Linked DNA regions of Homo sapiens. The gene in region 1 interacts genetically with each later gene. Each region holds a gene or a part of one and is shown on either strand. Other genes may lie near its edges. The genes, in order: PMVK and NF1.

The links.
Region 2: changes in PMVK (region 1) and NF1 together harm fitness more than expected from each alone (negative genetic interaction), as found in Homo sapiens cells (one large-scale study listed by BioGRID).

Annotation. Positions count from the first base shown.
Region 1 is NC_000001.11:154,929,900-154,933,719, forward strand, and holds part of PMVK (phosphomevalonate kinase), read right to left. Parts: intron 2,517-3,820; coding exon 2,453-2,516; intron 1-2,452. UniProt on the Homo sapiens protein: Catalyzes the reversible ATP-dependent phosphorylation of mevalonate 5-phosphate to produce mevalonate diphosphate and ADP, a key step in the mevalonic acid mediated biosynthesis of isopentenyl diphosphate and other polyisoprenoid metabolites.
Region 2 is NC_000017.11:31,339,157-31,342,976, reverse strand, and holds part of NF1 (neurofibromin), read right to left. Parts: intron 2,473-3,820; coding exon 2,332-2,472; intron 1-2,331. UniProt on the Homo sapiens protein: Stimulates the GTPase activity of Ras. NF1 shows greater affinity for Ras GAP, but lower specific activity. May be a regulator of Ras activity.

The DNA.
Region 1 (3,820 bases):
CCCCTCAGGCTCTCAATTTCTTGATCACCCACCTGCTCCCCTTGCTGCAAGAGGAGGTCAGTAGCCACCTCCTGCTCCTGAACCAGTTTCCCTCCAGGAGCGTTGTGGTCTACTTGTTGGTTATATTTCTTCTTGTGACTTAGGAAATCAATGCATGAACATTTCATTTTGGTTTTGTTTTTTAATGGGAGTGGGGGATAGAGTGGTGCTGGACTTGCACAGAGCAAGGGCAGTCTGGCCTATCAGAGTCTTCCATGGAGCTTTTAAAAATGCAAACTGGCCAGGCACAGTGGCTCACGCCTGTAATCCCAGCACTTTGGGAGGCCGAGGCGGGCAGATCACAAGGTCAGGAGTTCAAGACCAGCCTGACCAATATGGTGAAACCATGTCTCTACTAAAAATACAAAACAATTACCCGGGCGTGGTCACCCATGGCTGCAATCCCAGCTACTCAGGAGGCTAAGGCAGTAGAACTGCTTGAACCCCAGGAGGTGGAGGTTGCAGTGAGCCAAGATCGTGCCACTGCACTCTAGGCTGGGCGACAGAGCGAGACTCCGTCTCAAATATAAATAAAATAAATAAATAAATAAAAATGCAAACTCCTGCTCCTTCTTCCTCCCGCCCCCCACCCAACCCCACCAGTCTCACTCAGTAGGACAGAAGCAAGACCTGTCTGGGAACTTTGGAAGATCAGTTTTGAAAGTGCTCCTGGGAGGCCTTTGGAAGTGCCTAGGCCCCACTAGGGAAGGCTCAGTGCCTTCCCCTTCACCCCTTCCTTCCTCCCATCCCCCCACCACCACCCCACCACCCTGCAGCATCGCTCCCAGTCTGTCTCCTGGATACAAAGAAATTCTGTATCCAGTTTCATTTGGGAAAGAATCCTGCTTAAAATTTTTGAAAACCAGGCCAGGTAAAGTAGCTCCTGCCCAAATCCTAGCACTTTGGGAGGCCATAGTGGGAGGATCACTTGAGCCCAGGAGTTGGAGACCAGCCTGGGCAACATAATGAGACTCCCATCTCTACAAAAAAAAATTTTAAACTTAGCCAGGCATAGTGGCATGCACCTGTATTCCTAGCTACTTGGGAAGCTCAAGTGGGAGGATCACTTGAGCCCAGGAGGTCAAGGCTGCAGTGAGCCATTATGCGCCACTGCACTCCAGCCTGCGCTACAGAGCAAGACCTTGTCTCAAAAAGAAAAAAAAATAAACCACTTAATTTAGTTATTCTTACAATTCCTCAGGCTGCCACCCTATGAATAGGTCTGTTCAGCTGGTGAGAGATGACCCAATGCTTCCCATGGAGGCAAAGATGGCATATAGAAGGGGGGACAATTCATTTTATGTGGTTCCGGAAACCACACTCTGGCCAATTGAGGGGCCAAAGCACACGTCCCAGAAGGGTGCACCTAGAGGTCAAGGGCAAAATGTGGCGACAAGAGGGCTCTTCACCATGTGGGAGGCTGATCTTGCCTTCCAAGTTCCCTTTCTGAAGTCTAAGATTCTGAGAGTTCCTGTTGACTTATTTTTTTTATTCTATTTTAACGATTCTATTTTTTTTAATCCATGTGGTTCAAAATTCAAAGATACACATTAATTTACAGTCGAAAATCTCTCTCTCACCCTGTCCCCTCCCTGGGGGCAACCAATGGTACGGTTTCTAACCTGTCTTTCCCATGCAGTGCAGGAACACATCCCAGGCACCTGAAACAGTGCTGAACATGAGACAGGCACCCTGTAAATATTTGTTAAATAGCCAAATATATGAGCAGATATATTTAGAATTCTTTTACAATTCTTGGTCACAAAGTGCCTCTTCAGTTTTAGACAAATGTAGCATTCTCTACACACTGTTCTATATCTTGGTATTGGCTTTTTTTTTTTTTCACTTAATGATATATTTTGACAACTTCTGGGACTAAATTTCTTTTTTGTGTGTTGTTGTTTACTTTAAAAAAAATTTTTTTTAAAGAAACGGAGATGGGGTTTCACCATGTTGGCCAGGCTGGTCTCTAACTCCTGGACTCAAGCAATCTACCTGCCTCGGCCTCCCAAAGTGCTGGGATTACAGGCATGTGCCACCGTGCTCGGCCTGTACTAAATTTCTAGGAGCAAAGTTCTAGGGGCTGTGTCAGGCCAGCTGAGTGAGAGGGTGGTGTGAGGAGGCACAGGCAGGTCCTTACTAATCACACAGCATCAGAGCTGCCAACTCGAGTGTCGACAGCCTTTCCTGGGCACACCTTCCTGAACTCACTCTGAAGGGAGGGAGGCTATTAGGAAAGAAATATAAGCTGAAAATGCCCCCGAAAGGTCCACTCACAGAAAACCAAGAGCTGGCCACCACCCTGCCAGCAGTGGTGACGGGAATCATGCCAGTGACTCAGGCAGCAGCCACAGCTCCAAAGTCCTGGAGCCGGCCCCGCCCAACACACCGGATGCCACAAAGCACCACCTACCTGAGCATACTGTTCCTTGAGTGGACCAGAGAGCCGGAGGACAGCACAGACATCAGCTCCAAGTCTGCAGGACAGGGAGATCAGAATCCAGTTAGCCTAGAATTTCCAGGAGCTTCCATGTCCCAGAAAGGGAGTCAAGAGGCCTGTGTTGAAGTCCCATTTCTACTACTGGTATTATGTAACTTTGGTAGGTCTCAATGTCCCTGATCCTGTTTCCTCATCAGAAAATGGGGATAACACTTTCTGTTCTGTCTCCCACACAGGATTATTATGAAACTCTAAAGAATATAAAAGAGCCCTGAAACTAACAGGTAAAACCTATAAAGTGCTAATTACAGTGTGAACAGGCGCACAATATTCTAGCTGGATTAGGTTATTGCCCAGACCCTAAACTAATTCTCTCATAGCCAGAGGTATCTGTCTCCACTGACTTGGTCACCATAACATATATCATTTATTAATTCACTGGTTGGGCATGGTGGCTCACACCTGTAATCCCAATACTTTGGGAGGCCAAGGCAGGAGGAGTGCTTGAGGCCAGGAGTTCAAGACCAGCCTGGGCAACACAATAAGACCCAGAGATACCATCTCCACCAAAAAATTTAAAAATTAGCTGAGCATGGCAGCATGTGCCTGTACTCCCAGCTACTCCAGAGGCTGAGGTGGGAGCATTCCTGAGCCCAGGAGTTCCAGGCTACAGTGAGCCATGATTGTACCACTGTATGCCAGCCTGGGAGACAGAGTGAGACCCTGTCTCATAAAAATGAAATAAGAAAAGCAAATTTAAAAAACTGAAACAAAAGCCAGGTGTGGTGGCTCACGCCTGTAATCCCAGTACTTTGGAAGGCTGAGGCAGCAGATCACCTGAGGTCAGGAGTTTGAGACCAGCCTGACCAACACGGTGAAACCCTGTCTCTACTAAAAGCATAAAATTAGCCGGACATGATGGCGCATGCCTGTAATCCCAGCTACTCGGGAGGCTGAGGCAGGAGAATCACCTGAACCCAGGAGGTGGAAGTTGCAGTGAGCCGAGATCGCCCCATTGCACTCCAGCCTGGGCAACAAGAGTGAAAATCCATCTCAAAAATGAAAATAAAAATAAAAATAACTCATTCGTTATTTAATTTACTTAACCAACCTTTTTTTTTTTTTTTTTTTTTGAGACGGAGTCTTGCTCCACCACCCAGGCTGGAGTGCAATGGCGCGATCTCGGCTCACTGCAATCTCCGCCTCCCAGGTTTGAGCGATTCTCCTGCCTCGGCCTCCCAAGTAGCTGGGATTACAGGCGCCCGCCACTACACCCGGCTAATTTTTGTATTTTTAGTACAGACGGGGTTTTGCCATGTTGGCCAGGCTGGTCTCAAACTC
Region 2 (3,820 bases), on another chromosome or scaffold:
GTTCACACAGTAGCTTTCTTTAAAGGCTCACTTAATTTTGTGTTCAATAGTATGACAAGATAAGTAATCCTTTCAATTTGAGAGAAATTATTTTCAGTTGACTGCAGAAAACCACAGAACATTTTAGCTACTACAAATTAACTGGTGCAAGACAGTCAAGCATATAAATAAGAAGATGGTGGAAGATGAAATCACTTTTATTTACAATACAAAATAAATGACTGTCAATTTACATCCCGGTGACTTTTAACATGCTTATTAACTCTGATGCCTAGCATCCAAAGGGCACTAGAATCAATATTAGCTCCCGCTACTGGGCTGTTTTGAAGATGAAAATACCGAGGCAGATGCCCCATTTGCAATGCTCCATTTGCAAATATTCTTTTTTTGAGATGGAGTCTTACTCTGTCGCCCAGGCTGGAGTGCAGTGGCACCACCTTGGCTCACTGCAACCTCCTGGGTTCAAGAGATCTTCCCACCTCAGCCTCCCAGGTCGCTGGAGTTACAAACATGTGCCACCCTGGCTAATTTTTGTATTTTTAGTAGAGACAGGGTGTCACCATGTTGGCCAGGCTGGTCTCGAACTCCTAACCTCAAGTGATCCTCCCAACTCGGCCTCCCAGAGTGCTGGAATTACAAACATGCGCCATTGCACCCGGCCAATTTGCAAATATTCTTAACATATAAATAGCCAACAACTAGATATCGCTGACCACCACTGTCCCAAAACAGTTTTAGAAAAACGGCAATGAGAATTAGGACAGAGGGGTTCTAGTCCCAAAACAGATGTACAAGCATGGGCAAGTTACTTAACTTCTTAGTTCCTTTCTAATTTGCAAAATGGAGGTCTGATTAATAAACTCCATAAGACCTCTTACCTCTAAAATTTTGCTTCTATATTTTTCAGACCCATATCTGTTCCAGGTTCACACTACATCTGGTAGACTGAACTAATAATGTTTAGACCAAGTATCTTTTTACACTTAAAACCATAATCCTGTTCTTTGTACCCACAGTTCAGTTAATTTCACTTCAAGCAAATCTCACTGTATATACACATTCTTTTAAAAACATTCCCCTCTTTTCTCCTAGACCCTTCCCATTTTTATCCAAAGACAAAAGGGACGTAATTTCATACTATTTTATTCTCTCCTCTATTCTCTATGAACTAAAATCCAACCCCAATTAGATCTCCATTTTACAAATTAGAAAGGAACTAAGAAGTAATTTGCCCATGTTCATATATATATACACACACACATGCACACGTGCACACACACACACACACCCCATTAGCACCCCTCCTAACATTTATTAACCTTAATTGGAGTTGGATTTTACATATTTTATGTGTGTACACACACACACACACACACACACACTTTATATATATATATACACATACATTACATATATATGTGTGTATGTAATATATGTATACACACTTTTTTTTGGAGACAGGGTCTTGCTCTGTTGCCCAAGCTGGAGTGCAGTGGCGTGATCTCAGCTCACTGCAACCTCTGCCTCCCAGGCTCAAGCAATCCTCCTACCTCACCTCCCGAGTAGCTGGGATTGTAGGTGCATGCCACCATGCCTAGCTAATTTTTGCCTTTTTTGTAGAGATGGGGTTTTGCAAGTTGCCCAGGCTGTTCTCTAACTCCTGAGCTCAACTGATCCACCTGTCTTGGCCTCCCAAAGTGCTGGGACTACAGGTATGAGCCACCACTCCTGGCCACTAATGGTATATTTTAAAGTAAGATTAGACAGAATAAAAAAACTAGTAAAATTAAGTACCCAAAAGTTTCCTTTAGACTCTCCAACTTCCTTATCTACTATGAATTATACGTATTTTTCATTAAGTGGCATTATTAAGTAAAACTAAGATTACTTTTAGATTATTTCTTCACGTGTGAAATGGGGGGCAGAGAATGCTAACCTTTACCTTAAGGTTATGAAAATTAAAAATAAATGTATAGTGTTTAGCATACGGCCTGGCATGGTAGCTATTAATATTATTACCATGTATTGTTTATGCTCATTCTGTAAGGATGATCATGTATTATTTATCCTTATTCTGTAATTCTACTAGTATTAGGCCAGTACTGTTTTTTTTTTGTTTTTTTTTTTTTGCTATTTTTATGTAAAAAATATGCATTCAAGTTTACATAGTTCTTTATGAGCTGGTAAGGAAATATACTCACAATAAGTTACATTATACAAATTCCTACTTAAGTTATGGACTTCTTGTGATTTTAAAAGAATAGCAACAAGAAAAGATGGAAGAGTACTAAATTTGAGTAATCTAGGAACCTCAAGGCAAAGTTTGCTTACCTTGTCATTGAATATACGGAGACTATCTAAAGTATGCAGGTTTTGTTCAAGAAGTGCGGTACCTGCTGAATACAAGTTGACCTCATCAAGCTGCAGCACAGCCACAGCTACCCAAAAGAGGGCTTTGTGCAGAGGCGAGTCCTGGCAAAGAAGATATGTTTGAGGCTAGTAAGATGAATCATGACATAGTCTCTTTCAAAACACACTGCAGTTAAAAATAAAGCAGCTTATCTTCCTAAATTACCCATGTTTTCTCTTTTGGGGAAGATAAAGATATGAGTAAGCTCTTCACTTTTCCATATGTATAACTAAAGACACTGTTAGCTGGACTGAGAACGTTACTTAGCACCTCCTTTGACTTCTCCCTGTTCTTTGATTTCTAAATCCAGTCACCAAGGTTTGTTGATTCTTCTAGAGTAGTCTCTTTTGTATCTTTTGTCATTTCTTTCTTATTGCTAATGACATTACCACATGCCAACCTTCTTTATTATAAAGGTGGATTCTTTTTACTTCAGTTTCTCCCTACTCCAATCCACTGTGCACACTACCACCAGGAGCTAAGTCCTGCTTTCATCGTATGACTTGTCTGCTTAAAAACTGTACATTTCCAAACTCTTTTGAACAATGCTGAATGTGAGATGAGGTCTATCCAGTCCTCACAACTTTCCCTCTCTCGATTCCTTTGAAAAGCTTCTCCATTACAACTAGAATGTTCTACCCACCTTCCCTCCATTGTCCTGGCATTCTTGTGCAGCTCTCTCCCTTTCTCTCTACCTACATTAACTCCTATGTTTCCCTTTAACTTTATTTTAAACTGTCTTTTCAACTTCTTGTCACTCTTAACCAGTATGGTAATCTCTTGCTGCTCTGAATTAAAAGTATTTATTACTGGCAATCTTTACTTAGCACTGTGATATTAGGGAAAATACATGGACTTTAGAGTCAAATAGTATCACATTAGAATCATGGTTCTTTTATTAGGTATGTGACTTTGGGCAAGTTATTTAGCCCTTCTGAGCTCATTTTCACTTAGAAGATGGGGACCAGAGAACCATTTTGTATAATACAAAATTAGAATGCTTGTAGACAAACCAGGAATATAACAGGTATTATTTCTCTGTTATTTCTCCCAAGTCTGGCATACCTTTGTACTCAAATCACAGAATTAAACCACTTTAGAACTGGATGGTAATACCATGCCATTATCGAATCTTTTTCATTTTATTAATACAAAAACATGATTTCCAGATATCTTAAATATAAAAATGGGATAAGGTCAGACCATCCTAAAACAGTGGCCACTTCATTTTACTCCTTTTAAATATAATCTTCATTTGGCACCCAAACTCTTATGACGATCAAGTATACTTCTCCCAGCTTTAATTTCTCCATAGTAATAATCACTAACATACTACGTATTTTGTTTACTTCATTATCCATTCACTCCCCAACCTCCACACCCACCCCAGAAAGTAAGCTCCATGAAGGC